Regions from separate parts of the Homo sapiens genome. Here regions 2, 3 and 4 are each reported to be linked to region 1. Evidence: microRNA targets listed by miRTarBase, many of them from high-throughput screens and not tested one by one. Region 1 holds a microRNA gene; each other region holds the end of a gene's coding sequence.

Region 1 (7,154 bases):
TTTCCCATACTCTGTTACAAATAGAGTCAGATTCTGTAGGGCAGTGGTCGCCAACCTTCCTGGCACCAGGGACTGGTTTCATGGAAGACAATTTTTCCACAGACCAGGTTGGAGGGGATGGTTTTGGGATGAGACTGTTTCATCTCAGATCATCAGGCATTAGATTCTCATAAGCAGTGTGCAACCCAGATCTTTCACGTGGGCAGGTCACAATAGGGTTCTTGCTTCTATGAGAATCTAATGCTACCACTGAACTGACAGTAGGTGGAGGTCAGGCAGTAATGCTGGCTTGCTTGCCCACCACTCACCTCCTGCTGTGTGGCCTGGTTCCTAACAGGTCATGGACTGGTACTGGTCCACAGCCTGGGGGTTGGGGACCCCTACTTTAGGGAGAGCTTTAATATTCTATATTAGGCCAGCATCTCACACTAGGCAAAATCTTAGAATCACTGAGCCGGAGATGGCATTAAGGGCAGTGGCTTCCTTCCCTCACAGGGACACTTCTGCTTTATGAGCATGTTGCTTATCAGTGGTTGTAGACCACGTTTTCATATGCTGCATCTGCAGTACACTCTAGAATAGTGGTCTGAGCATTGGAAGAGTGCCCCTGACTTCTTACCACGTACACATGGTGTTTTGTCTCCGAGCCATTAAGCTGGGTGTGTGGGATGGTTGAGAAATGCCGAAAGCCTATGACTTCCATGAATATACCATAGCACTTATTGGGTGCTGGAAGGAAATTCCTTTTGTAGGCCACAGTCACCTAAACTCCTCAATCCTCATCCTCTGGCATTCATTCATCATATTTATATACCCATAGCTTGATGTACCAGGTTCAGTTTTTCCACGGAGATGCATACACTATGTAGTATATCTCAGAATGGAAAAATACAATAGCATGCTCAAAACAAACTTGTTCCAAGAAAAGACCCTGAAAACCTAGGAAAGAATTTGAGGGCATCCTTAGGCAACAGGTATAGTTTTAATCTTGTAGATTACTCCTGATAAGTAAAATGGGCTTTTTACACATTACTTGCTGAGGAAGAAAGGAAATTTCTGCTCTCTTTATCTCATCATTCACTGATTATTCTATTCTTTAATTCCAGGATCATGTGTGTTTTTCTTGTTTATTCTGTGTCTCAGTAGTTGAGGTGCATAACTCAAGACTTAGAGGGACTCATATCTTCAGGTGACAGATATGGTGTATTAATCAGTTTTCACACTGCTGATAAAGACATACCCAAGACTAAGCAATTTACAAAGGAAAGAGGTTTAATGGAGAACTCACAGTTCCATGTGGCTGGGGGAACCTCACAATCATGGCAGAAGGCAAGGAGGAACAAGTCACATCTTACAAGGATGGTGGCAGGCCAAGAGAGAGAGAGCTTGCACTAGAATACTCCCATTTTTAAAACCATCAGATCTTGTGAAACTTAGTCACAATCACAAGAACAGCACAGGGAAGACCCGCCCCCATGATTCAATCTTCCACCGGGTCCCTCCCACAACACATGGGAATCAGGGGAGCTACAAGATGAGATCTGGGTGGGGACACAGAGCCAAACCATATCATTCCACTCAGGCCCCTCCAAAATCTCATGTTCTCATATTTCAAAACACAATCATTCCTTCCCAACAGTCCCCCAAAGTCTTAACTCATTTCAGCATTAACTAAAAAGTCCACAATCCAAGGTCTTGTCTGAGACAAGGCAAGTCCCTTCAACCTAAGAGCCTGTAAAATCAAAAGCAGGTTAGTTACTTCCTAGATATAGTTGGGGGTACAGGCATTGGGAAGATACAGCCAATCCAAATGGAAGAAATTGGCCAAAACAAACGGGCTACAGGTCCCATGCAAGTCCAAAATCTGGTGGGGCAGTCAAATCTTAAAGCTCCAAAGTGATCTCCTTTGACTCCATTTCTCACATCCAGGTCATGCTGATGCAAAAGGTAGGTTCCCAAGGTCTTGGGCAACTCTTCCCCTGTGGCTTTGCAGGGTACAGCCTCCTTCTTGGCTGTCTTCATGGGCCAGTGTTGAGTGTCTGTGGCTTTTGTAGGCACACAGTGCAAGCTGTCAGTGGATCTACCATTCTGGGGTCTGGCGTATGGTGGCCTTCTCACAGCTCTACTAGGCAGTGCCTCAGTAGGGACTCTGTGTTGGGGCTGTGATCTCAGCTTTTCCTTCTGCACTGTCCTAGCAGAGGTTCTCCGTGAGATCCTTGCCTCTCCAGCAAACTTCTGCCTGGAGATCCAGGCATTTCTATTCATCCTCTGAAATCTAGGTGGAGGTTCCGAAACCTCAGTTCTTGACTTCTGTGAACCCACAGGCTCAACAGCTTATGGAAGCTGCCAAGGCTTGGGGCTTGTACCCTCCAAAGCCACAGCCTGAGCTATACCTTGACCCCTTTTAGCCACAGTTGGAGTGGATGGGACACAGGGCACCAAGTCCCTAGACTACACACGGCACAGGAACCCTGGGCCTGGCCCTCAAAGCAACATTATCCCCCTAGGCCTCCAGGCCTGTGATGGGAGGGGCTGCCACGAAGACCTCTAACATGCCATGGAGATACTTTCCCCATTGTCTTGGGGACTAACATTTGGCTCTTCATTACTTATGCAAATTTCTACAGCTGGCTTGGATTTTCCTCAGAAAGTGGGTTTTTCTTTTCTATAGCATTGTCAGGCTGCACATTTTCCAATCTTTTATGCTCTGCCTCCCTTATAAAATGGAATGCCTTTAACTGCATGCAAGTTACCTCTTGAATGCTTTGCTGCTTAGAAATTTCTTCTGCCAGGTACCCTAAATCATCTCTCTCAAGTTCAAAGTTCCACAGATCTCTAGGGCAGGGGCAAGATGCTGCCAGTCTCTTTGCTAAAACATAAAGAGTCACCTTTGCTGCAGTTTCTAACAAGTTCCTCATCTCCATCTGAGACTACCTTAACCTGGATTTCATTGTCCATATCATTATCAGCATTTTGGGCAAAGCCATTCAACAAGTCAAGTCTCTAGGGAGTTCCAAACTTTCCTACATTTTCCTGTCTTCTTCTGAGCTCTCCAAAGTGTTTCATCCCGTGCCTGTTACCCAGTTCGAAAGTCGCTTCCATATTTTCAGGTATCTTTTCAGCAGTGTCCCACTCTACTGGTACCAATTTACTGTATTAGCCCATTTTCACATTGCTGATAAAGACGTACCCAAGACTGGGCAATTTACAAAGGAAAGAGGTTTAATGGAGAATTCATAGTTCCATGTGGCTGGGGAAGCCTCACAATCATGTTAGAAGGCAAGGAGGAGCATGTCACATCTTACATGGATGGCGACAGGCAAAGATAGAGAGCTTGTGCAGGAAAACTCCCATATTTAAAACCATCAGATCTCATGAGACTTAGTCACTATTATGAGAACAGCAGAGGAAAGACCTGCCCCCATGATTCAATCATCTTCCACTGGGTCCCTCCCACAGCATATGGGAATCATGGGAGCTACAAGATGAAATTTAGGTGGGGACACAGAGCCAAACCTTATCATATGAGATTGATGAGATGGAGGATTATTTACTACTTAATTAATGGATATGGAGAATGCAAACTGGTAGTTAATGCTTTGCAAGTAGCAATGTGAAAAGGAACAGGATAAGACATGCAAGGATATTTCTTCTGTGAGTAACAGAACCTAACAGAAATGTTTAATATTTCTCAGTTCTGAAAACTGTCACGTGAAAGCTGCAACATGGGAGTGGACAGCACTCAAAGCAGGAAACATAAGGAAAGATAGTGGATTGGATTCTGCAGAAGTCCTTTGTCCAAATTCCAATGGCCACCCACAACTTGTAAATATTGAATGGCTGTTTTAAAGGTGAATGGGTGGGTATTAAGGCAAGGCTGCCATCCTCAGACATGCTGTGTGTGGTACCCTACTGCAGACAGTGGCAATCATGTATAATTAAAAATGATTGGTACGTCTGTGGGTAGAGTACTGCATGACACATGCAACATACATGATGACACTGTGTGTGTGTTGGAGGCATTTAGTTGCATGCAGAGGGATGCTTTCCTTACAGTGCAGGTATTTTACCCTCACAAACCCTCCACTTCCATGCTGGACTACCTCAGAAAACTCTCTCAGGTGCCTGACCACCAGACACGTGATCTAGGAATTTAAGGTCCTTGCAACAAGCCTCCCATTGAGTTCTTCTGAGATTGACTTCCATTTCTATGATGTTGCCTGATTGAACCAAGGTTTATCTTGCCATTTTACAGTTTCTTTCTGCCTTAAGAGTATTATTCATTTTGCAGAAACTATTTCCTTCTCCAACATCCAAATCTATTAACGGTTAGCTTCCTTTCTAATTTTCAAGTCTTCTTAAGCCTTCCAAAATTCCCTCCTGCTTCTTAAACACTTAACTTTCTGAAAATCAAAATATTTTCTGTCTCAGATATACAAAGTCCTCTTTCTTCATGTGCTAATAAAGTACATATTCGTTCTTTTGTAAATATATTTTAATCTATTATAAGGAACAGGATAAGACATGCAAGGATATTTCTTCTGTGAGTAACAGGACCTAGCAGAAATGTTTAATATTTCTCAGTTCTGAAAACTGTCATGTGAAAGCTGCAACATGGGAGTGGACAGCACTCAAAGCAGGAAACATAAGGAAAGATAGTGGATTGGATTCTACAGAAGTCCTTTGTCCAAATTCCAATGGTCACTCACAGGTTGTAAATATTGAATGGTTGTTTCAAAGGTGAATGGGTGGGTATTAAGGCAAGGCTGCCATCCTCAGACATGCTGTGTGTGGTACCCTACTGCAGACGTGGCAATCATGTATAATTAAAAATGATTGGTACGTCTGTGGGTAGAGTACTGCATGACACGTGCAACATACATGATGACACTGTGTGTGTGTTGGAGGCATTTAGTTGCATGCAGAGGGATGCTTTCCCTATAGTGCAGGTATTTTACCCTCACAAACCCTCCACTTCCATGCTGGACTACCTCAAAAAACTCTCTTAGGTGCCTAATCAGACACATGGTCTAGGAATTTAAGGTCCTTGCAACAAGCCTCCCATTGAGTTTTTCTGAGATTGATTTCCATTTCTATGATGCTGCCTGATTGAATCAAGGTTTATTGTGCCATTATACAGTTTCTTTACGCCTTAAGAGTATTATTCATTTTGCAGAAACTGTTTCCTGCTCCAACATCCAAATCTATTAATGGTTAGCTTCCTTTCTCATTTTCAAGTCTTCTTAAGCCTTCCAAAATTCTCTCCTGCTTCTTAAACACTTAACTTTTCTGAAAATCAAAATATTTTCTATCTCAGATATACAAAGTCCTCTTTCTTCATGTGCTAATAAAGTACATATTCGTTCTTTTGTAAATACATTTTAATCTATTATAAGGAACAGGATAAGACATGCAAGGATATTTCTTCTGTGAGTAACAGAACCTAACAGAAATGTTTAATATTTCTCAGTTCTGAAAACTGTCATGTGAAAGATGCAACGTGGGAGTGGACAGGACTCAAAGCGGGAAATATAAGGAAAGATAGTGGATTGAATTCTGCAGAAGTCCTTCGTCCAAATTCCAATGGCCACGCACAGCTTGTAAATATTGAATGGTTGTTTTAAAGGTGAATGGGTGGGTATTAAGGCAAGGCTGCCATCCTCAGACATGCTGTGTGTGGTACCCTACTGCAGACAGTGGCAATCATGTATAATTAAAAATGATTGGTACGTCTGTGGGTAGAGTACTGCATGACACGTGCAACATACATGATGACACTGTGTGTGTGTTGGAGGCATTTAGTTGCATGCAGAGGGATGCTTTCCTTACAGTGCAGGTATTTTACCCTCACAAACCCTCCACTTCCATGCTGGACTACCTCAGAAAACTCTCTCAGGTGCCTGACCACCAGACACGTGATCTAGGAATTTAAGGTCCTTGCAACAAGCCTCCCATTGAGTTCTTCTGAGATTGATTTCCATTTCTATGATGTTGCCTGATTGAACCAAGGTTTATCTTGCCATTTTACAGTTTCTTTCTGCCTTAAGAGTATTATTCTTTTTGCAGAAACTATTGCCTACTCCAACATCCAAATCTGTTAACTGTTAGCTTCCTTTCTCATTTTCAAGTCTTCTTAAGCTTTCCAAAATTCCCTCCTGCTTCTTAAACACTTAACCTTCTGAAAATCAAAATATATTCTATCTCAGATATAAAATGTCCTCTTTCTTCATGTGCTAATAAAGTACATATTCGTTCTTTTGTAAATATATTTTAATCTATTATTAGTAAGTCATATATCAGGAATTGTGAATAATGCTGAGAATTTTTTATTGTTTGATTTTTTTGCATTTACTTAAAAACATTTTTTATCTCTAGGTTTTCATTTACTTCCTTTATGTTGTTTCTTTCTCATTCAGTGATGAGAGAGGGTGTATGGAAGCAGAAAATGGGTAAAGGAGAGAGAATGAGAGTCAGAATTAGAGCAAGAATAATCTGTTTTTTTTTTTTTTTTAATCAAGTAGGGTAGAAGTCACAGGTGGACATCTAGGTTTTATTCCAGTTATTCATGGCTAAAAATAAAGCTACTTTGTATATTTGCATACAGATGTATATATGAACACAAGTTTCATTTTCCTTGTGTAAACTGCTACTAGTAGGATTTGAAGGTCACATGGCAAGTGTAAGTTTACATTTAAAATTAATTAAAAAATAATTTCCAGAATGGTTTTACCATTTTGTGCTGCATTAAGCAATGTATTAGTGATCCAATTACCCAACTTCTTATCAGCATTTTGTATTGAAAAGCCTTTGTTTTGTTTTTATTAGCAATTTTAATATGTGTATAGTTCCCTTGTCAGTTGTGGTTTTAATTTGCATCACCTTACTGACGGAAAATGTTGAGCACCTGTACATGTACTTACTTACCATTCATGTATCTTCCTTGGTGAAGTGCCTTTGGGATTTTTCTCACCTTTACCGAGTTGTTCACTTATCTTTGAGGTTTACTATATACATATAGATAGAGATATATAGGTATACTGCATACAATTTCTTGGCCAGAATTATGATTTACATATATTATCTCTCAATCTGTTTTGTTTTTTTCATTTTCAACAGTATTTTGTGCAGAGCAAATGTTTTCAATTTTGATAAAG
Region 2 (7,154 bases), not on the chromosome of region 1:
GGACTAGTAATGGGATGGTGAGGGGAGGAAATGCATGGCGAATAAAGGTCGTCTTGTTATGCAGATATAAGTCTCTCAGGTAATAAAAGTTGTCTCTTCCTGGTACAGATACTTGTACTAATGTAGATTTCCTTCATGACATACATTTCTTTTGCAAAGGGCAGCTTTTCAGAGCTACACCTGTTGTGTCTGCAGTTTCTCAGAATAACCAGCTCAAAATATTCCAAAGAAGTATAATTTGGGGTGATATATATCTAGTCTCCTACAGTCATATTTTGGGGGTGGTGTGTCCTGAGCCCCAACATTTCCTTCTCCTGTGATGGTTTGTGTCTGAGACAGGGTCTCTTGCTCCCATGCTAGAGTGCAATGGCGTGATCATGGCTCACTCCAGCCTTGACCTCTTGGGCTCAAGTGATCCTCCCATTTCAGCCTCTCAAAGTGCTGAGATTACAGGCGTAAGCCATTGCACCTGGCCTCCTGTGATGGTTTTAAAGACGTCTTTAATCCCATAGTGTCAGTCCATTTCTGCACAGCCTCTGGGCTGCCCAGCTGGGTGCCTTGTTCTCTAATTCACTGTCCTCGTGACAGAGGCAAGGTCTTGGGCAAACATTCAGGCAGAGGCTGAATCTTCCTTTACCGCTGAAAGCTTGTTCCAGACCTGCCTTCAAGTTTTCACCTTCTCCTATTCATTAAGTTCACTCGGTCTTGTATTCCTTCCCACTGCTGCTGACGGTAGCAGTTGGGGATTTGGAGGGGGACCCAAAAGACAGAAATAACTGGCATACTACCACAGATAGAAGAGTTGTTTGTTCCCTTACTACCTGAATTCCAACCAGAAGAACTTGTGATGAGTTAGCGATGTGCAAAGCCTTTCGATGTCAGGGACGTGCTGTCTAGCCATAAAACAATTAGCAAGGAAAGCATAAACATAATTTCAAAACTCTTATCTAGGAACAATCTATATATATCCAACAACTATTGGAATAGTACAATTCTGCCTTCGAACTTTGTCCATCATTTTTATGTGTTCCAAGTAATATGGTTTTGCATTAAATAACCTGCGTGGGGAAGACAGTTGCAGCATGCTGTCAAAACACGACTTCCCATCCTGCTCCCTTCCCCACCGACCTCGTCACGATTCATGGTCGCTGCCTCTTTTCTCAACCACGGTGGCCACACATGATGAAAGTTGTGATCGCTGCTGATTTTGGGGAAAGAGGGTTCTGTGTCATCAAACATCTTTAATAAAGAGTTACTATTTTGGGGGCCGGGTGCTGTGGCTGTGCGCCTGTAATCTCAGCACTTTGTGAGGCCGAGGCAGGGAGACTGTTTGAGGCCAGGAGTTTGAGACCAACCTGGGCAACATAGCGAGCGCCTGTCTTTACGAAAAGAATTTAAAAATATTATCCAGGCATGATGGTGTGCACCTATAGTCCCAGCTACTCTTGGGAGGCTGGGGCAGGAGGACTGCTTGAGTCCAGGAGTTCAAGGCTGCAGTGAGCTACGATCGTGCCACTGGACTCCAGTCTGGGTGACAGATGGAGACTCTAACATAGGAAGTTACCATTTTTTGTAATCTTGTTTCTGTCTGCCCAGCATCCACAACTTGGGGGGAACTGTCCCTTTCTGTGGGACACTGGTGGGCTACCAACCAAAAGACCTCACTTCTCTGGCCACACAGGAGGGCTCAGGATGTCAGGTCAGCCAAGAGGCCATTGTCTCCCAGGATTTGCTACCTGAGTGAAGCACAGGGTAGGCTGACGGTGTTCAACTACTGAGACCCTCACCCCAAGGCTATTCCAGCTTCTGTCCTTCTCAAAACATGGTGGAAGCCACAGAGTGTACATTTCCAAAATATTTCCTTCTTTCCCTTAACATTGGGCAGTATAGTTCTGTTGCTTGCAACCCAGCCCTGGTATGCTACATATACTACACACAGACCCTTCACTTTCAAAGAATTATTCTTTAATAAAATACTCAGGACCCTCCTGACCAGGTGAAATAGATGCTCCAGGCTCCTGATGACCCAAGGCAGCAATGCTGTCACCTCAGTGCACTCTCCCTGTCTCATCTATACCCTCTGTAGAGTGCTGACACACGGGTGGACTGTGGAACAAGGGGATGGCGGCCCAGAGCACCCAGCACAGACGCGGGGAGCCAGCCTGGGTCCTCAGTAGCAGGTGGCATGCCCAGTTCCAGGAAGCAGCCTCATGCGCTCCGTAGGTTTGAAGTCTCCATAGCCCAGCCTGGGTCCTCACTACCTCTGTCCTGTTGTTTGCAGACATTGGGCCTGCAAAGCAGCCCAGCGGGGCCCTGCAGGTGAATATCAACTACAAAAGCCGCCCTTCTTCTTTCTCTCCAAAACCCTCCTACCCAGTCCACCCCTAGTCAAAAATGAGGAAAAGAGCCGAGCCTGAGGCTGGGGATGGTGGCTCATGCCTGTAATCCCAGCACCTTGGGAGGCTGAGGTGGGCGGATCACTTGAGGTCAGGAGTTTGAGACTAGCCTGGCCAACGTGGCAAAACCCTGTCTCTACTAAAAATAAAAAAAATTAGATGGGCGTGGTGAGACACACCCTGTAATCCCAGCTATTCGGGGGGCTGAGGTGGGAGAATTGCTTGAACCTAGGAGGTGGAGGTTGCAGTGAGCCGAGATCGCACCACTGCACTCCAGCCTGGGTGACAGAGCGAGACTGTCTCAACTAAAAAAAAAAAAAAAGCCAAGCCTGGGAGGCTGGAAGGGCAGCAGGTTTCCTGCCCAGCTTTGGGGCCATGGACTCACACCTTGAGAAAACCAAGAGAGGCCTAACAAGCTGTACCCATCCCCTCTCCCACTCCTGGCTGCAGCCACTCCTTACCTGTGGACCCCTGCCCAGCTGTGACCCAGCAGAGAGGTGCCACAAACCTGGGCACACTGAGCCCTCCCCATGCCGCCCAGCCAAGTTTTGAGTGGATGATGTTTCCAGTCTTACTCAAGAATTCAGATGTCAGCCCAGCCCCATCCCAAGAGGCTCAGCCTCCTGCTGTGGGATCTGTATCCGGCTCAAGCCCTCCCTGCTGGAAGAGCTGCTTGGGCCCAGGGAGGGCTCTCCTGAGCCACCCACACTGGGGACTGTGCCTTTCATTCCCGCCAACGATACAGGTAGGGGAGGGGGTGAGGAGCCAGTGACAGCTGCGCTCGAGGCTAAATGCTAGGCCACCCTCGGCCTTAAATCTCTGTCCTCTCAACACAGTTATTGACAACACCACCAAGCATTGATGAGGATGCGGAGCAACCGGAACTTGCGCGGAGGTTGGTGGTGGGAAAGTAAAATGACACAAACACTCAGGAAGCAGGCCTGGGTGTTATTTCTTTTTTAATTGTCTATATAACAAAATCCACTGTTGTCACTGTTTTCCAGCATACAGTTCAGTGGCGTTAAGGGCATTCAGGACAGCTCTCATGACAGACTCACACCCACATGCACACCTGGTGCCCCAGCCTGCTTTGTCCACTGTCTCCATTTCCCCAGGGCTGCTTTTACTTTTTATTGTATTATTTTTGAGGCAGGGTCTCACCTGGTTGCCCAGGCTGGAGTGCAGTGGCATGATCATAGCTCACTGCAGCCTCAACCTCCCAGGCTCAAGTGATCCTCCCACCTCAGCCTCCTGAGTAGCTGAAACCATAGGCGCCATCACCATGCCCAGGGCTGCTTTTAAATAATGGCAAAGCCAGCAAGGCTCACTCGCGTGCCTGGGTCATGTTCTACAGCTGCTTGACCAGGAATCTTCCAATGCCGTATGAAACCTCACCAGGACCAAGAAAGAGAAGGGTTCCCTGCTCAGACCAGACACTTGCAGCATGGGGAAGGAGGAGCCCCTCCCAGCAGACCCAGTTCTCCTCTGTGCAGTCCGGCCTCATTTCCCACCCAAGCTCTGACCAAACCCCCTCCTGCTGCTCTGAGTGCCTGCTGTGCTCCTGGGGGCCCTCTCCACCCTTCTGTAGCTCCTGAAACCTTGTCCACTCTGCAAGGGCCGGGGCGTGCCAGTTCCTCCCAGAAGCACCCCAATGTTTCTGTCCTTTCCTGGAATCTCACAAGCACCCAGGTGCCTCTCTGCCTTGCCTGCCCCGCCCTCCTTGGCATCCTGGACTCGTGGCTTCTCTGCCCATTTCCTATGGCACCCAGCAGGAGGCTGGGCAGAAGATAGTGTCTGTGGGACACCTGCCCTTGCCCTGGTCACAGTGCCATCCAGGAGTCCCCATACTTGCAAAGTATGTTTGCACTGTGTGAAAAACTTAAAGCAGAAACATAAGAACAAAAGTGGACACTTCTCAAAAGAATAAAATGTTTGCATAAAAGGCAGAAAGACAGGGATGTCAACAGTGGTTCTCTAGGTCACGATGGCGGGAGCAGCATTCCTGCTGACAAGCACTCCTGCCCCGCGCAGCCACGCTGGGCTGCCGCCGCCTGTCAGCCTGTCTACAGGAGGCTGCAGAGCGGCCGTAAATGCCTTTGAAATAGCATCACAGTTATTTGTTAGGTCATCTCCTAGGGAGATGATACACAGTTTTCAATCCCAGTGAGTCTTTCTACCGCTTGTAAAATAAAATTAAATTACAATGATTCAACTGTTGAACAAGCTTATAGAGTCATAAAAGAACTATGATTTTCTATCTCACCCTTCCGTCTGGCAATCAAAGATCACACGTAGAACTTCTACACATGACCAAGGACCAGTACTGGGGCCTCCTTCCCACCTGAAACAAGGCAGGACTTCACTGCGAGGGGCTCTGAAAAGGAGATGCTGCAGGGTGCCACCCCTGAGTCCCACAGTTAGGGTCCTTTGTAGCCCAATGTCCCCAAGTCCCTCCAGCATGCCTGGGACTGAATGGTCCTGAGCGGCTGGGGTAATTTTCCTGAGGAGGTGGCACGTCATCTAACACACATGGGACAGAACCATGGCCCCCTGGTATGCTTCTTGGTGGTGGCAGTGGGGCAGGGACTCTATCTTAGCTCAAAGCCAGGGCTCTCATTACATGGGTGGGGAGCTGTGTGGCTCCAGAATCAATTACCTTCCCAGACCAGGCGCGGTGGCTCATACCTATAATCCCAACACTTTGGGAGGCCTAGGCAGGAGGATTGCTTGAAGCTAGACGTTTGAGACCAGCTTGGGCAACATAGCAAGACCCCATCTCTACCAAAAAAAAAATTTTTTTTTTTTGAGACAAAGTCTCGCTCTTGTTGCCCAGGCTGCCCAGGCTGGGGTATAATGGCGTGATCTTGGTTCACTGCAACCTCCGCCTTCCAGGTTCAAGCAATTCTCCTGCCTCAGCCTCCCAAGTAGCTGGGATTACAGGCACCCACCACCATGCCCAGCTAATTTTTGTATTTTTAGTAGAGATGGGGTTTCACCATGTTGGCCAGGCTGGTCTCGAACTCCTGGCCTCGGGTGATCCGCCTGCCTCGACCTCCCAAAGTGCTGGGATTACAGGAGTGAGCCACCATGGCTGGCCTACAAAAATTTTTTTTTTACAAAATTAGCCAGGCATGTTAGTGTATACCTGTCATCTCACCTACTCAGGAGGCTGGGATGGGAGGATCGCTTGAGCCTGGAGGTCAAGGCTGTGGTGATTGCACCACTGCATTCCAGCCTGGGTAACAGAGTGAGACCCTGTCTCAAAACAAACAAACAAAAGTAACAACTAAACAAAAGAGAATAAAGTACTTGCTCAGGAGGATAGAGAAGGGCTAGGGGAGAGGGCAGAAAAGGTTTGTACAACTTAGAGGGCATGAACAGCAGCAGCACCTTGTTTTTTTTGACCAAACAAGAAAAGGCCCCCAGAGCTCACGCACAGCTATCATCAGGGCCGGTGCCATGGCCTGGCTCCTCGGGTGACACTTCCCCATCTGACACATGGCACGAGGGCTCAGCTGCCCGCCCAACCCTTCCAGCACTTCCCAGCTGCAGATCTAGGAGCTGGAAGGCAGGCCTGCTCAGCAGGCCACCTACTCACCAGAGCAGTGGGTGTCATAGAACTCATCTCAGTGGCAATGTGGCCAGAGAACATGCCCTGGCTAAAACAGATTTCAGCAGCACGTTATTAAAATAAAGCACAATGGGCCAGGCGCAGTGGCTCACACGTGTCATTCCCGCACTTTGGGAGGCCAAGGCAGGAGGACAGATTGAGGCCAGGAGTTCAAGACCAGCCTGAGCAACATAGCAAGACCTCATCTCAACAAAAAAGAAAAAAATTAGCTGGGCCTGACAGTGCACACCTGAGGTCCCAGCTACTCAGGAGGCTGAAGCAGAAGGATCTCAAACATGTTTGAGGCTGCCGTGAGCTATGATTGCACCACTGTACTCCAGCATGGGCAACAGAGTGAGACCCTAGCTCTAAAAAAAAAAAAAAATTAAAAAATAAAGCAAAATGTTATCAATGGATTAAACTATGAGACCATTTATTTCTTCCCTGCCCTGCAGCGTTCAGTGGGCTTACGCACCTCCGGCTGCCACCATGGGCTGCCCTGCAGGGAAGGCCTGTGTGAGGCAGACCTTTCAGGCCAGAGGAGGCTACACCACGGGCTCCCGCAGATTCTAGCAGGTGGGGGCATGAGACTTCAGGTCATAGGAGCAGACATCGCAGCCGTCCAGCAGGTCTGCCTGAGAGACGCCATTGAGGCTGGGGGCAACCAGAGCTCTGGGGTTGTCCTGCACGCCTGTCCTCGTGAGTGTGTCCTGGAGAAGTTCTCGGATTCTTCGGTTTTCCCTGAAGGTAGATTCCCAAATAACTTCAAGTTCACCTTCCATTTCTCTGAGGGAAATAAGTTTAAAATGGCACAATTTTAAAAATAATATAGAGCCCATATGAATCCCAAAGTAGCAAGAACTCAAAACAGAAGAACGCTATCAGCAGGGAACAGAGCCCTCGGTGCCTGGGTTCTGAAGCAAGCGCTCAGTGTGGAATGAAGCAGCTGGTGCCCTGGGAATGGGGAGCAGCAGGACAGCCCAGGCTGGGGCTCAGTGTGGAATGAAGCGGCCAGTGCCCTGGGAATGGGGAGCAGCAGGACGGCACAGGCATTTCTCTTCCCTCTATGTTCTGCCCTTGACTTTGGCGCCAGTGCAATCCCTGTTTTCTCTCAAGAATGAACTTGGGCGTGTCGAATAAGGAACTGC
Region 3 (7,000 bases), not on the chromosome of region 1:
GCGGCTGCATCTGCTGCTCATGCCGCCCAAACACCACCCAGATGTCACTTACGTCAAGAAGGTGAGCCCCCCAGCTCCCCACCGGAAGGGGTGTGCCTCTGGCCATCCTGGTCTACTTGGGTCACTCTCCAGCTGCCCCCTCCCATCTGCCCAGTTCAGCCAGCCCCCACCTCCTCTCTGTACCAACCCAGCTCTGGCACCTAGGAATGTTCTTCCATCCCCGCCTCCGAAGAAGAGAGAGGCTCTTCCCAGCAGCAGGCTAGGGAGGAAGCTGGGCTCACCTGTCTCCGCCCCCCAGGTCCGGACCCTCCGTATGCACCTGTTCACGGCCCTGCAGCTGCTCTGCCTGGCCCTGCTCTGGGCCGTCATGTCCACAGCTGCCTCCCTGGCCTTCCCCTTCATCCTCATCCTCACAGTGCCGCTCCGCATGGTGGTGCTCACCCGTATCTTCACCGACCGAGAGATGAAATGTGTAAGCCCTCCCGTCTGCCTCCCCCGGTTCCTCTTGCCTCCCTGTGGATCTGGAAAGGCCCCCCCACTTCCCTTCTTGACCGCCACCTCCCCACACACAGCTGGATGCTAACGAGGCAGAGCCGGTGTTTGATGAGCGGGAGGGTGTGGACGAGTACAATGAGATGCCCATGCCTGTGTAGCCGCCACCGAGGGACAGCCGAGGGACCGATGGACGAGGGGACAGGCTGGTGGGATGGGGTTCCCCCTCCCATGCCCCTCCCTCCTTTTTATTTAAGTGAATAATTTAAAGTCTTCTCCTCCCCCACTGCCCCTGCAGTAAAGTGCTTTGGCCCCCACCTATCTGTGGCCTTTTGTCTTTGTATGGGGGGCGGGGCATGAATGGAAGAGGCGGGGGACTCAGCTCTGCTCCCCGTCCCAAAACTGAGATTCACAACGGGGAAGGAAAGGAACTTTAATGAGAAATCAAAACACAGGGAACCAAAGTGCAAATCATCCACCCCCCATGGGGGGGCCATCCTGAACCCCACATCAACCCCTCAGCCCCCTTCAGGCCCCCAGCGCAGGCCCAGGGCCTGGAGCTTCTGCCTCAGGTAGCTCTTGAGCTGGGGCAGGCCTCTCTGGGACTCCAGTTCCTCGAAGGGTAGCTGTGGGGAGAGGAGAGGGCGGCAGGTTACCCGCAGGCTGGGAGTGAGGATGCGCCACGGGCCAGGCCAGGGCCACTCACCGGCAGGAGCTGGTAGCCCATCAGGCCTAGGTGCCGCTCCCTCAGGGCCCTCGAGCCCAGCAGCACCCGGCCGTCCCGGCAGAAATGCCAGCGTTCCCGCAACACCAGCACCACCCTGCAGGGGGAGGGACGTGGCTCAGGGCATGGCGGGCAAGGTGGCCAGGGCTCCCCCACCCTGCCTCCTTTACCTCTGGGCAGGGTCTCGAGTAGTGGCGCTAGAGGCAGCCTGGCCCTGTGGGCAGGACCTTGGTGGGTATGGCAGGAAGGGGTCCTGGGTCCTCACGGGAAGCACAGCACCAGAGCTGCTGGCGCACAGCAGGAAGTCTGGAGGGGAGCAGGGCCGGCGGCCTTAGCCAGGGCTCCGTCTCCCCGGGCCTGCCGCCTGCCCCTTGCTCACCTGTGCAGTAGCCTGGAGGCACAGTCAGGTCCTGGCGGTATTTCTCCTCCCCCAGCAGCTGGCGCAACCCCTCAGCTACTATGTCCTTGTGACTGAGGAGAAAGGACACCAGTAGCAGGAAGGGCCCGGCACCTCATCCTAATCTGTCCCAGTCTAGTGCCACCACCCTGGGCAAAGCCCTCTGCTGCTTCAGGGCCCAGTTTTATGGTGGCCGAGAGCTCCTTAGCTTTGGCGCTTCATGGTCCCTCTGGCTTTTCCACTCTGCTGGTCCCAGGCTGGCCCCTCCCCTTGCCCCAGGCTGCCCCATCCACCTGTACTTGCAGCGGGCACGGTCGGTGATGAGAGGCTGGGGAAAGATGGGCACTTGCTGCCTTCGGGGAAGGCGGGGACCCCGGTATCCTGGGAGCTCCAGCTCCACGGCCGTGTCCAGCAGGGAGAGGTAGCGACGCACAATCAGAGCATGAGGGGTGCCTGTGGGGAGGCGGGGACTGGGGCTCTGGGCTGCAGGCCACCCTGCTCCCCTGCCTCTCCAGCCCTCAGGGGCCCAGCCAGCCATCCTGGCTGCGTACCACTGATGTAGTTGATGAAGCCAGGGGAAAAAACAAAGTGCAGGGCTCTGAAGGGCAGGCACCGCAGTTGGCACAGTGACATCAAGATGTTGACTGTAGCCAGGGGTGCCACCCCTGCTTCCCGAGCCAGGATCCTCTCAAGGCAGGGCATAAACTGCTGTTCCAGGGGCAGGTAGTTCAGTCGCCCAAAGGGCAGGACCAACTTCTGTACCACCTGTGGAGGAAGAGCAGTTCATTACCCAGTGTCAAGTATTTCTGCAGTCATCTTTTACAAGCTAAGCCTTAGAGAGGCTTAGCCCTCAGGTTTACAACACTGCTGTAAAGACAGGACAGTCCCTCCGGCCTCACAGTTCAACAGCAAAGCAGTCACGAGCTGCACGTGACTAATCACCAGACAGGCAGAGGGGACATCGCTGTGGGGTCTGGCCCTGAAGACTTCGAGAGGGATGGGTGGAGCTAGGATGCTGCTAAGAGTGCTTTGGGAAACTGCAGATTTCCAGGAATGCATGCTGCTGACAGGAGGTGGGCAAGCCACAGAAAGGGTGTAGAAAAGATGCAGGTCCCAGGGGACAGAGAGGGTGTGTCTGCTTCAGGAAAAGGATAGCCGAGCTGCACGAGGCGCTGGGCCTGACAAGGTCCCTGAGAATGACAGAGATGCACTGGAGGGTGGGTGGCAAGCCCACCTTGCTGCTGAGTTGCGTTTCCTGAACCACCAGGAAGTGGGCAATGGCTTCCAGAAGCTGGGGCTCCCGCAACCGGTGCCGGGCCAGGTGCTGGGCCAGGAGCACCATCACGTGGGGAGTCAGTTCCTCTGGCCTTGCCTCTGTGAAGAGCAGCCTGTCACGCTGGGCCTCAGCCGGACCTCCGGCTGGCTCAATTCCACCTCAGCCCAGCCAACTGAGCCCACCTTCCTCCTCCTGTCAGCCCTCCCCACCCCCATCTGATTTTAACCCCCTCCAGCACCTGCCAGGCTGCTGATCAGATGCTGCCGTGGATACCGCAGAAAACGGGGGCAGCTTAGAGCAGCTTCCAACCCTTGCCCACCTCGGAGAAGGGGCTGCAAAGGGGGAGGTGGCTTCGGAGGGAGGCGGAGCCTTCGCTCCTGTTCCAGGGCACACACCAGGGGACCATCAGATGGAAAGCCTGAGGGGGAGAGGTAAAAGGCAGCCTGGTAACAGAGCTGTGCTGCTGTTCTTATCATGGGGTTACTTGGTGAATTCTCCACCTTTCTCCTCTCCCGTTTCCTGAGCGGGAAGGTGTGCTAGAGTTTAAGTGCAAACACTAGAGACATGTAAAGTATCATGTGGCTATGAGGTATCGAAACGGTTTGTAGGGAGTACATACAAAGATGGCAAATAGGCTTTCATCTCATACCAATTGTGACAAATTATGGTGGCTTCCTAGGGCACTCTATTAGCAGGAATCTGGGGTGGCACCCTAGCGAGGCCGGAAGGAGTGCGTTCGACTCATGATGTCTGCCGCAGACATAGGACGGGAGCAGGAGCAAGCGTTCCTGGGCAAACGCCTGAGAGGCTGGGTCTCTGTCCGTGGTCCTCTACTGTTCTCCCTATTCTTCATTAACACCTAGCCCCCCAGGCGCCCACCTCAAGCCCCTCCTCACCAAGTAAGACTGCAAGGTGCAGACACACGTGGATGGTGTGAATGTCAAAGGAGGGGCAGTTTCGGATGATGAGCTGACTCAAGTCCTGCAGTGTGACCTGCTCCACAGGAGGGGGCCGTGGCCGAGACCCCAAGAGCTGGCCCAGACGACGAAGCGCCACCGAGTAGTGGTGGGCGCGCACCTTGCTGGGGTTCTGGCCCAGCCAGCGCAGCAGCTCCCCAGGGCTCTTCGCCTGTTCCAGAAGCCGCTGCAGTCCTTGCACAGGACCTGCACTGGGGCCTCCTCCAACAGGCCGGTCCCCCCATTTGCTGGGCCCCAAACAGCAGGGCTGTACTGGAGGGATCAGCAGCAGGCCAGACAGCCGAGCAGGGGAGGTCTGAGCAGAGAGCAGGACTCGAAGCATGGAGTTGGGTGATGGAGACCCTGAGGGGCAGCCCAAAAAAGGGGGTGAGGTTTTCTCCAAAGGGGAGAAAGACCTGCTACCTACTGCTTACCTCACTCCTCATTTAGGGGGCCTGTGGTCAGAGCAAGCCTTTGTGACTGCTCTGGGCCTCTTCCCCACCCCGCCCCTCTGCCTCCTTCCACGCCTTTGAAACAGCAATCATAATCCTCAGTGCGCTCAGCGCAGCACTACTTGCAAAGCAATTCCACATGCACCATCTCTGATGCTCCTTACACGCCCATGAAGAGTAGGCAGGGCTGGCATTACCTCATTTCACCGGTGGAGAAACGCAGGCCCAGAGCAGCGAAGGGGTTAAGTTAAGCCCGAGGTCATTAACCGGGTTAGTGGTCGCGCCCAGTCTGGAGCCCAGGCGGCACCGGCGTGCACTCTCCCGACCACCTCCCTCTCCCACAGGAGGCGGCGGCGGCACAGAGGGTGGAACGCGGGCTCCGCGGCTGGACGGTGCTGGGTTCCATGCTGGGCGCTCCCACTCACCAGCGGCGTGACCTTGGACAAGTGGCTTCGTCTCTCTAAGTCTCCTCACCCGTGAAATGAAAACGCAGCGCCCACCTCGCAGGGCGCGCGTGGAGCCCGAGTGCACCGCTTTGCGATGGCGCGGAGTCGGCGAAGTCGGGGGCCCCAACACCCACCCCGGCCCAGGGACGCCAGGAGACCGTGGCCGCTGCCGCTAACACCAGCTCCCGCTGCCCTCCCGCAGCCCTCCCCGCAGGCGCCACCCCTACATGACTCCCCGGGCCCTGCGCAGGTCGCTCCCTCAGTCGGTCTCGGGGCCCGGGGGCCGGGTTCCCCCCGCGGCCTCCTCATCGGCTAGCCACCGAGTCCGCCATCTTCCCAGCAGCCCCTAGATAGCCGCCCGGACGCCAATCCCGAAGCAGCTATCGGTCTTCGGAGACGTGGCTCCCGGCAGGCACTGCGAGCCAGGGAGCCGCGAGCCCCGCCCGCGGGAAGTGCGCGCCCGGCGCCGAGGGCGGGGCCACGGAGGCCGGCGCCAAAGCCAGAGCAGAACGCTGGGGAGAAGGGAAGGCGGAGGGCCAGACCCCAGGCGCAGTCCGTGCCCTTCTCTCCCAAGGGGCGAGGACTCCCCGCCCGCCAGCCCGCACACACTCAGACACACTGCAAGAGTGAAAACTTCACAGTTACTTTAATCTGCACGGGTTCCGGGGAACTCCTCTGCCCCTCCCCGCTCCCCTTCACCAGCCTCCCACCGACCTGGCGTCCCCAACTCAGCCCAAGGAGCTGTCAGGGATTGGAGGCGGCTGGGTCCTCCGGCAGAACACTAAGACGGGCCCCCGGGGCGGCCCGGCTCTGCCCGGGGCCGAGGCAGCGACAGCAGATGCCCGACCCCGAGGAGCCCACTCCCAGTGCGGGCTGAGGGTCAGCAGCCCCGGGAGGTGGCCCCGAGCCCCGGCGGTCGCAGGGCGGGGCCTCCGCCAGTCCCGGGAGTCCTCTGCGGCGCAGGGCTGGGCTCCAGGGCGGCGGGAAGAGGCAGGCCGGAGAGGCGGGCCTGGGCAGGCAGCAGCTCCCGCCGCGGCGCGGGGAGCAAGGTCCGGAGGGGCCGGCGACGCTGCCAAGCGCCCGCGGAGGCACTACGGGCGGTACATGGCAAAGGCCAGGAGACTGAGGAGCAGGGTGAAGCCGGCCAGGCCCAGAGTGGCGGTCAGGGGAAAGAAGGGCCGGTACTGGATCTGGCAGTACCAGAGCAGCAGCAACAGCAGGAGCAGCAGGGGCAGCAGCAGGCTGCCGATTTCCAGCCCGGAGGGGCCGGGCTCGGACCCCGGCGGGCAGGGGGGATTTGGGGGACCGACTCTCGTGGACACGTGGCAGTGGAGAACGCAGTTGGGAGGGAGGTGAAGGCTGCCCAGGGTCTGGGTGTCGTCGCCTAGCAGCTGCCCTTGGTAGATGAGTCGCACCTGCTGTTCCCGGCCGGGAAACTGGGTCCTGAGGAGAGAGGGACCTGGGTAAGAGAGCAGGCCTCAGGCAATCCTAGTCCCTGGCCCCGGAACAGCACTCCCACCCTCCCCCTGCCCTCCACAACACACCGGCCCTGGCCTGGGAGGGGCCGTCTGCCAGGGGAACAAGTACAGTTGTGATCTGGGGCGCTCAGCGCCTCCAGTATAAAGGAGGGCTGGGTCTTAGGTGTCTCTGGGGGCCTTCTGCGACCACTCTCCCAACCCCTGTCTTTAGCATTGCTCCTGCCTCTTGACCTACTTACCTTTTCAAGGAGCCAATGGTGTCGTGGGGCCAGGCCCTGGCCACCTGCTCTGAATCATTGAGGAATTTCAGCCGTAGCACGAGGGGCTCCTGCGGGGAGTCCGGGGCTGGCGGTGTTGCTGTGAACCCCGTGCTGGGCTCTGGCTGTGCAGCTTGACCTCTGTGTCTCAGGCTGGGGGTCTCTGCCCCTGGGGCCTCCCCTCTCATGCTGTCGGTAGCTGCCATGGCTGCGCTGGGCTGGGATGGCGTTGGGGTCCCTGACGGCTGGGGCAGTGGGTCCCCGCCCTCAGCGGTGTGCGTTGAGACCCAGGCAAGGGCCAGCACCAGAAGGCAGGCAAGCACCGAGAAAAGGACGGTCACCTCATCACCCACCCCTTCAATCAGGGTCATGGCGCCTGCCTTGCCCGCCGCGCTACCGAGCTGGAGAGGCACAAAGAGCCCGTGAGGCCCGGGCCCCCTGGCCAGGAGCCCTGGAACCTCCACAGGGTCCTGCCCTCACCCCACCGCGACGCTCCCACCGTCCTCAGCCTCCGTCCCCTCA
Region 4 (7,154 bases), not on the chromosome of region 1:
GTAGAGACGGTTTCACCATGTTGCTCAGGCTGGTCTCAAAAACTCCTGAGCTGAAGCAATCCATCCACCTGTGTCAGGCTCACCAAGTGCTGGGATTGCAGGCGTCAGCCACTGCGCCCGGCCATGGTTGGTTTTTTTGACCCCTCATTGGGTAATGATCAGGTAACAAGCGGCTTTGAGGGAGCAGCAAGGTCTGTCCGATGGTGGGATTTGGGGGCTGGGCAGGCAGTGGCTTGTGAAGTAGAGCTTACTGAATGAGGTGGGGGTTTTCTGGGAGCTAATTGGACCTGGAGTTTTGGCCTCTACCTGCCCATATGGGAAAAGGCTTGCCTGGGTCAGGAGGTGATAGGAACACTTGATTCTCTAGGACCAAGTGACCTATGCTTGCCATGATCGCTTTCTGCTGTGCAAGCAGTAACAGGCCAGGTCTTGTGCGAGTGGGCTGGGGGATTGTGCTGCTGCCATATGCTAAAGCGGGGAGAAGGCGGCCAGGCACAGTGGCTCACGCCTGTAATCCAAGCACTTTGGGAGGCCAAGGCAGGTGGATCACAAGGTCAGGAGTTCGAGACCAGCCTGGCCAAGATGGTGAAACTCCATCTCTACTAAAAATACAAAAATTAGCTGGGCACGGTGGCAGGCGCCTGTAGTCCCAGCTACTCGGGAGGCTGTGGCAGGAAAATTGCTCGAACCTGGGAGGCAGAGCTTGCAGTGAGCTGAGATCACGCCACTGTCATCCAGCCTGGGTGACAGAGACTCCGTCTCAAAAAAAAAAAAAAAAAAAAACGGAGAAAGCTGCTTCTCCTCGGACAGGGCCTGCGGAGCAGGCAGAAAGCTGAGGGTAGTGAGTACAAAGAAAGGGAATAGTAGCTAACTCACTGAAGTTGGGATTGCTCATGCAGAGACAGCTGAGATTTCCAATAATTATCACTTTCCTTTTTTAATCAAAAAGTATCATTATCTGGAATCCCTTTTACTTTCTGTATTCTCTGTTTTTCCACACTGCTAAAAACACTTTTCCTTCTGCCTGCATTAACCACAAGTAATCAGTCTGGTGGCTGGGGCTGGGGAGGCAGCAAATGGCCATTTCTGTAATATCCCTAGAGCAGTCACATGGGCAGGGTGTGCCTAACCAGAGAATGGAGTTGTTCAGCTTGCATTCCTACCTGGAAATAAAGTGCTCTCCTTATTCTCCTCCTGCAGGTCGGTGAGCTGGTAAAGGTTACGAAGATTAATGTGAGTGGTCAGTGGGAAGGGGAGTGTAATGGCAAACGAGGTCACTTCCCATTCACACATGTCCGTCTGCTGGATCAACAGAATCCCGATGAGGACTTCAGCTGAGTATAGTTCAACAGTTTTGCTGACAGATGGGAACAATCTTTTTTTTTTTTTTCCAACTGCCATCTATACAATTTTCTTACAGATGTCAAAAGCAGTCTAGTTTATATAAGCATTCTGTTACCTGTGATATTTTTTAGACTGAACTGCTCCATTCCTAGTCTTAATTACCATATTCAGGGTACGAACTGGAGGGCTTGTGTGTTAGCTTCTGAATTGGCAATTGGAGGCGGTAGTGGTCGTGCCTGTGTGTATCAGAAGGGATAGGTATCTTGCCTCCTTTCTCTCAGGCAGTGCAAATCACCCTGTGGAAAACCGATGGACAGGAAGGAGTGTTACACACTGCTTACCCTGATTTATTCAGTGGTTTTGTTTTCATTCTGGAACCATACTATCAAATGGCGACAGACTGTTCCGTTCCACCCCCGTGAAGTAATCATGCACCGTGTGAATAGTATCAAGCAGGATTGCTTTCATTGTATGGAGCATGACCAGCGTGTGACTCATTCTGACATTTCAGATCCTAAGAATTCTAAGAACACTACTAGAAGCATTTGTTCCCTCCTAGTCAATGCTTCATACTTTTTCTTGGGATTCTTTTAGCCCTTGACATTCTTGTCCCCCAAACCTGTAAGTAGGTGAATTCCTAAGATAAGTGTGTATTTTCATTCCAGGTGAAAAGCAGGATGTACCGAGCACTTTATTCAGTGCATAGCTTTAAGCCAGTGTTGGATTCACTAAGTGGACAGCCAGTCTCCCAGCTCTCTGCCTTCCCCAAAAGGGTCGTAGTAGGTCACCCTTCTACAGCAGCTAACTAGAGTCCTAACTAATGGGATCCAGCAGGGCCATTTCTCCAGAGGGCCAGTATCCTATTAGGAGACTCTTGGAATTCTTAGGTTCTACTCAAGAGTGGAAGGACCAATCACCTCTGATATTCTGTGGAAGGTTTTGGGGTCAAATTCTGCCCTCTGCATTCTGTGCAACTTGTATAAAAGTCAAGTTAGTATTACATGAATTTGGGGTAGGGTTAGTGCTTTGAAAAAATGTTGAACCGGCTGGGCGCGGTGGCTCACGTCTGTAATCCCAGCACTTTGGGAGGCCGAGGCGGGTGGATCATGAGGTCAGGAGTTCGAGACCAGCCTGGCCAACATAGTGAAACCCCATCTCTGCTAAAGATATAAAAAATTAGCCCGGCGTGGTGGTGCACGCCTGTAATCCCAGCTACTCGGGAGGCTGAGGCAGGAGAATTGCTTCAACCTGGGAGGTGGAGGCTGCAGTGAGCCGAGATCGCACCACTGCGTTCCAGCCTGAGCGACAGGGCAAGACTCAGTCTCAAAAAAAAAAAAAAGGAAAAAAAAAAGAAAAAAAAATGTTGAACCAATTGTGAATTACTTATGTATTATTCATTTCTCATGGGGAGAGTAATGCTGTTGAAGAACATTACATTGTAAACTGCCTTCATTTTTGGCTCTTTGTTTATGTTCAGGTTTAGTTTACAAACCCATTTAAGTATGGAATGATTTATATGGGGTCAGGTGCTCCACAAAATAGACCTATGAGACCAAAAATGACCTAGGCTATTTAGACGACAGCATGAAACTTCCACGTTAGTTCTCAGTCTATAAAGGCACTTACCGGTCTCTGGTGTGGTATGACCAATAGAAACACCTTATAGTTTGCTTTGGACCTCATTTTGGAAAAATAATCTGCCTTTCTAATTGTTCTGCATAGGTTAAAATGATAAATTTACATTCTTTGAACCTATACCAGATTGTGGTGTCCGAGTGACCGGCACACTGTCTGACACACAGTCAGTGTGCACGTATTTGTCTGAGTGAATGAGGAGACCTGAGAAACCGGTGACGTGGCACAGGGAAGCCAGCTGGCCCAGGATTCCGTACATGGCCGCAAGCAGACTAACGCGTTGACGCTAATTTAATGTATTTTACCTCACACTAAGGTCATGCTTGATAAAGACGTTAAACTCAACTTGTAAAATGGTAGCCCAGTGCTATGCACAGAGTGGGTGCTCATTAGTGTTGAATGAACACATTTGTAATACTACATGTAATTCCATCTGACTGCTTTGTTAAATTTTCAGTTAGAACGTAGATACTGTAAAGTCCACACACACATTAAATCTTGTTTTCCTGAAAGTATGGCATCAAAAATACTTGTAGAAAAACCTTGTCACAACTGATTTGAATGTTCCTATTTTCTTTTCCTTTGACTTTGATATTGGCTTGTAATGTCTCTTTTCATCATATGTAATATCAGTGGAACAGGCAGCGCTACTCAAGTCCTAAGGATTCCTCAGTGATCAGTGATCCAGGGCCGTTCATGAACCACTGGGCTGGATTTGACTGTTGAGTGTGGCAGTTAATGCCCCTCAAGAAATCAAAGGATGTCTTATAAGTGTCTTCCAAAAAAAAGCAAATGCTGAAATCCTATTGGCAAAGTAAACTGAAATTGGCTGCTATATTTTATATAATCATTTCTGCAAATCCCATTTTTTGAATACTAATATTTGACATGGTTAATTCTTATTAATTTGTTGGAATTGTTTATTGTTAATAATGCAAATAGATAATTTTTAATTATCCACAAGTAACATTTCACTGTTAATGGTTTGAAATAGGTGATAAGCAAACCAATTTGAAATAAAATATAAACATGTGCCATTGTATTATAACACTATACACTTTCTTGACAGTTAAATTTAAAAAAAAATTTTTTTTGGTAGCATGTATTGTATATGTTTATAGTATATGTAGTAAATAAAAATATGGCCAAATGTTTGGCTTGGTGATCTTTTGCAAAAAAGTAATCTTTGAATATTTTTCACAAAAGAACTAAATCTTTTTTTTTTTTTGAGACAGAGTTTCGCTCTTGTGACCTAAGCTGGGGTGCAGTGATGCGATCTCGGCTCACTGCAACTTCCGCCTCCCACGTTCAAGCAATTCTCCTACCTCTGCCTCCCGAGTAGCTGGGGTTACAGGCATGCACCACCACGCCCAGCTAATTTACTGTATTTTTAGTAGAAATGGGGTTTCACCATGTTAGCCAGGCTGGTCTCAAATTCCTGACCTCGGGTGATCCGCCTGCCTCCGCCTCCTAAAGTGCTGGGATTACAGGCTTCAGCCACCACCGCACCCAGCGAGAGGTAAATCTTTATGCTTAGGGGATAGGAGGTATGTGCCTTCAGCAGCCTGCAGTCATATAATTAGATAAACAATTATACAAGCTCAGTGGGTGCTTATTAAAGATGGGATTAGGCCGGGTGTGGTGGCTCATGCCTGTAATCCCAGCACCTTGGGAGGCAGAGGCGAGCGGATCAGAAGGTCAGGAGTTCGAGACCAGCCTGGCCAACATAGTGAAACTCCGTCTCTACTAAAAATACTAAAATCTGGCTGGGCATGATGGCTCACGCCTGTAATCCCAGCACTTTAGGAGGCTGAGGTGGGTGGATCACAAAGTCAGGAGATCGAGACCATCCTGGCTAACATGGTGAAACCCGGTCTCCACTAAAAATACGAAAAATTAGCCGGGCGTGGTGGCACGCGCCTGTAGTCCCAGCTGCACGGGAGGCTGAGGCAGGAGAATCGCTTGAACCCGGGAGGCAGAGCTTGCAGTGATCCAAGATGGCACCACCGTACTCCAGCCTGGGCAACAGAGCGAGACTCTGTCTCAATTAATCAATCAATAAAATACAAAAATTAGCCAGGCGTTGTGGCGTGCACCTATAGTCCCAGCTACTCGGGAGGCTGAGGCAGATGAATTACTTGAACCTGTGAAGTGGAGATTGTAGTTAGCCGAGATCACGCCACTGCACTCCAGCCTGGGTGACAGAGCAAGACTCCATCTCAGGGAAAAAAAAAAAAAAGATGGGATTAATCAATGGTGATATATATAGACACAGATTTTTTTTTAATTATTTATTTATTTATTTTTGTTGAGATGGAGTTTCGCTCTTGTTGCCCAGGCTGGAGTGTAGTGCTGCGTTCTTGGCTCACTGCAACCTCCACCTCCTGGGTTCAAGCAATTCTCCTGCCTCAGCCTCCCGAGTAGCTGGGATTACAGGCATGCGCCACCATGCCCGGCTAATTTTGAATTTTTAGTAGAAACGGGATTTCTCCATGTTGGTCAGGCTGGTCTGGAACTCCCAACCTCAGGTGATCCGCCTGCCTCAGCCTCCCAAAGTGCTAGGATTACAGGGATGAGCCACCGTATCCGGCCTTTTTTTTTTTTTTTTTTTTTGGCGGGGCGCAGGGTGGGGGGCGGGGACGGAGTTTCACTCTTGTTGTGCAGGCTGGAGTATAGTGGCGCTATCTCAGCTCGTTGTAACCTCTGTCTCCTGTGTTCAAGCGATTCTCCTGCCTCAGCCTCCCGAGTAGCTGGGATTACAGGCACGTGCCACCATACCTGGCTAATTTTTGTATTTTTAGTAGAGATGGGGTTTCACCATTTTGGCCAGGCTGGTCTCAAACCTCCTGACCGCAGGTGATCCACTTTGGCCCCCCAAAGTACTGGGATTACAGGCGTGAGCCACCGCGCCTGGCCTCGTGATTTTTTTTTTTTTCAAGACAAAATTTTCCTCTTGTGCCCCAGGCTGGAGGGCAGTGGCGTGATCTCAGCTTACTCCAACCTTGCCTCCCGGGTATAAGCGATTCTCCTGCCTCAGCCTCCCGAATAGCTGGGATTACAGGTGCACGCCACCAGGCCCTGCTAATTTTTGTATTTTTAGTAGAGATGGTGTTTCACCATGTTGGCTAGGCTGGTCTTGAACTCTTGACCTCAGGTGATCCACCCGCCTCGGCCTCCCAGTGTGCTGGAATTACAGGCGTGAGCCACTGCGCCCGGCCTCTGGCCTGGTGATATTTTTAAAGGTCTCCATGAGTATGAGTCATAAAATACTGATTTGAGGGGACCATAAGAATCATATAAAGGCCTGAAAGCAGGCCAGGTACAGTGGCTTATGCCTGTAATCCTCGCACTTGGGAGGCCTAGGTGGTGGAATCATTTGAGATCAGGAGTTTGAAACCAGCCTGGCCCACGTGGTGAAACACTGTCTCTACTAAAAATACAAAAAAAAATTAGCTGGGTGTGGTGGTGTGCGCCTGTAATCCCAGCCACTTAGGCCGCTGAGGCAGAAGAGTTGCTTGAACCCAAGAGGCTGACGGTGCAGTGAGATTGTGCCACTTCACTCCAGCCTGAGCGACAGGGTAAGACCCTGTCTGAAACAAAACCCAAAACCAAAAAAAACCCTGTTGAATGGCGTGTTCTTTTATATAGTCTACAGTATTCATACCAGCTGTCGTATTTTATGACCTGGACTTCCAGGTTAAATTCTGTTCCTCTTACAGGTATGAAAAGATGAGAGGGGGCCGGTATAGAAGAAAATGTGAAAATAACCATTAACCCTGCTAAGTTTGACAGGGAGAGGCGGAGAAAGTGGCGTGCTGTTGCCACCCATGTTCTGAAGACTGTGAAATGGGAGATAAGGTAGAGGCAAAAAAGAACCTTTAGCCATCTAGAAGTGAAGCTCAAAAACAGAGCAGGCCGGGCGCGGTGGCTCACGCCTCATCCCAGAACTGTGGGAGCCCGAGGCGGGTGGATTATGAGGTCAGGAGATCGAGACCATCCTGGCTAACACGGTGAAACCCCATCTCTACTAAAAATACAAAAAACTAGCCAGGTGTAGTGGCGGACGCCTGAGTCCCAGCTACTCCGGAGGCCGAGGCAGAGTGGCTTGAACCTGGGAGACGGAGTTTGCAGTGAGCCGAGACCACGCCACTGCACTCCAGCCTGGACGTCAGAGT

The links. Region 1 holds the annotated microRNA hsa-miR-509-3-5p (UACUGCAGACGUGGCAAUCAUG, at 4,800-4,821, shown strand). A microRNA usually pairs through its seed, bases 2 to 8, with sites in the 3' UTR of a target mRNA and lowers its output. Matches are read on the target gene's strand: a 7mer-m8 pairs with bases 2 to 8, a 7mer-A1 pairs with bases 2 to 7 and ends in A, and an 8mer does both.
Region 2: the mRNA of CEP89 is a reported target of hsa-miR-509-3-5p. Seed matches in the 3' UTR shown: 7mer-m8 at 3,599-3,605.
Region 3: miRTarBase lists SLC4A2 as a target of hsa-miR-509-3-5p. Seed matches in the 3' UTR shown: 8mer at 785-792.
Region 4: the mRNA of CRK is a reported target of hsa-miR-509-3-5p. Seed matches in the 3' UTR shown: 7mer-m8 at 2,607-2,613.

The regions. Positions count from the first base shown.
Region 1 is chrX:147,257,363-147,264,516 of GRCh38, reverse strand. MIR509-3 (microRNA 509-3) reads left to right here and starts at 4,791; the gene lies at 4,791-4,865. It overlaps MIR509-2 (microRNA 509-2), which reads left to right and starts at 5,667; the gene lies at 5,667-5,757. It overlaps MIR509-1 (microRNA 509-1), which reads left to right and starts at 3,892; the gene lies at 3,892-3,985. The region is part of intron 2 of LOC105373347 (periphilin-1); the gene reads right to left.
Region 2 is chr19:32,872,587-32,879,740 of GRCh38, forward strand. CEP89 (centrosomal protein 89) reads right to left here. Exons shown (of 19, transcript NM_032816.5): 19 at 3,339-6,792. The coding sequence ends at 6,576. Among named protein-coding and RNA genes, the nearest start is that of SLC7A9, 6.4 kb to the left of the region's middle. RefSeq lists an enhancer at 2,570-3,455.
Region 3 is chr7:151,075,715-151,082,714 of GRCh38, forward strand. SLC4A2 (solute carrier family 4 member 2) reads left to right here. Exons shown (of 23, transcript NM_003040.4): 21 at 1-61; 22 at 299-472; 23 at 573-809. The coding sequence ends at 653. FASTK (Fas activated serine/threonine kinase) reads right to left here and starts at 5,095. Exons shown (of 10, transcript NM_006712.5): 1 at 4,971-5,095; 2 at 3,786-4,208; 3 at 3,128-3,307; 4 at 2,848-2,987; 5 at 2,165-2,378; 6 at 1,907-2,066; 7 at 1,596-1,687; 8 at 1,387-1,522; 9 at 1,199-1,313; 10 at 910-1,118. The coding sequence starts at 5,052. The coding sequence ends at 1,011. TMUB1 (transmembrane and ubiquitin like domain containing 1) reads right to left here. Exons shown (of 3, transcript NM_001136044.2): 2 at 6,461-6,879; 3 at 5,371-6,186. The coding sequence starts at 6,849. The coding sequence ends at 5,835. RefSeq lists enhancers at 1-509, 510-1,485, 1,486-2,461, 3,438-4,414, 4,415-5,390 and 1 more and silencers at 1,288-1,367, 4,830-5,509.
Region 4 is chr17:1,417,697-1,424,850 of GRCh38, reverse strand. It overlaps CRK (CRK proto-oncogene, adaptor protein), which reads left to right. Exons shown (of 3, transcript NM_016823.4): 3 at 1,201-4,158. The coding sequence ends at 1,338. CRK-AS1 (CRK antisense RNA 1) reads right to left here and starts at 265. Exons shown (of 1, transcript NR_198965.1): 1 at 186-265.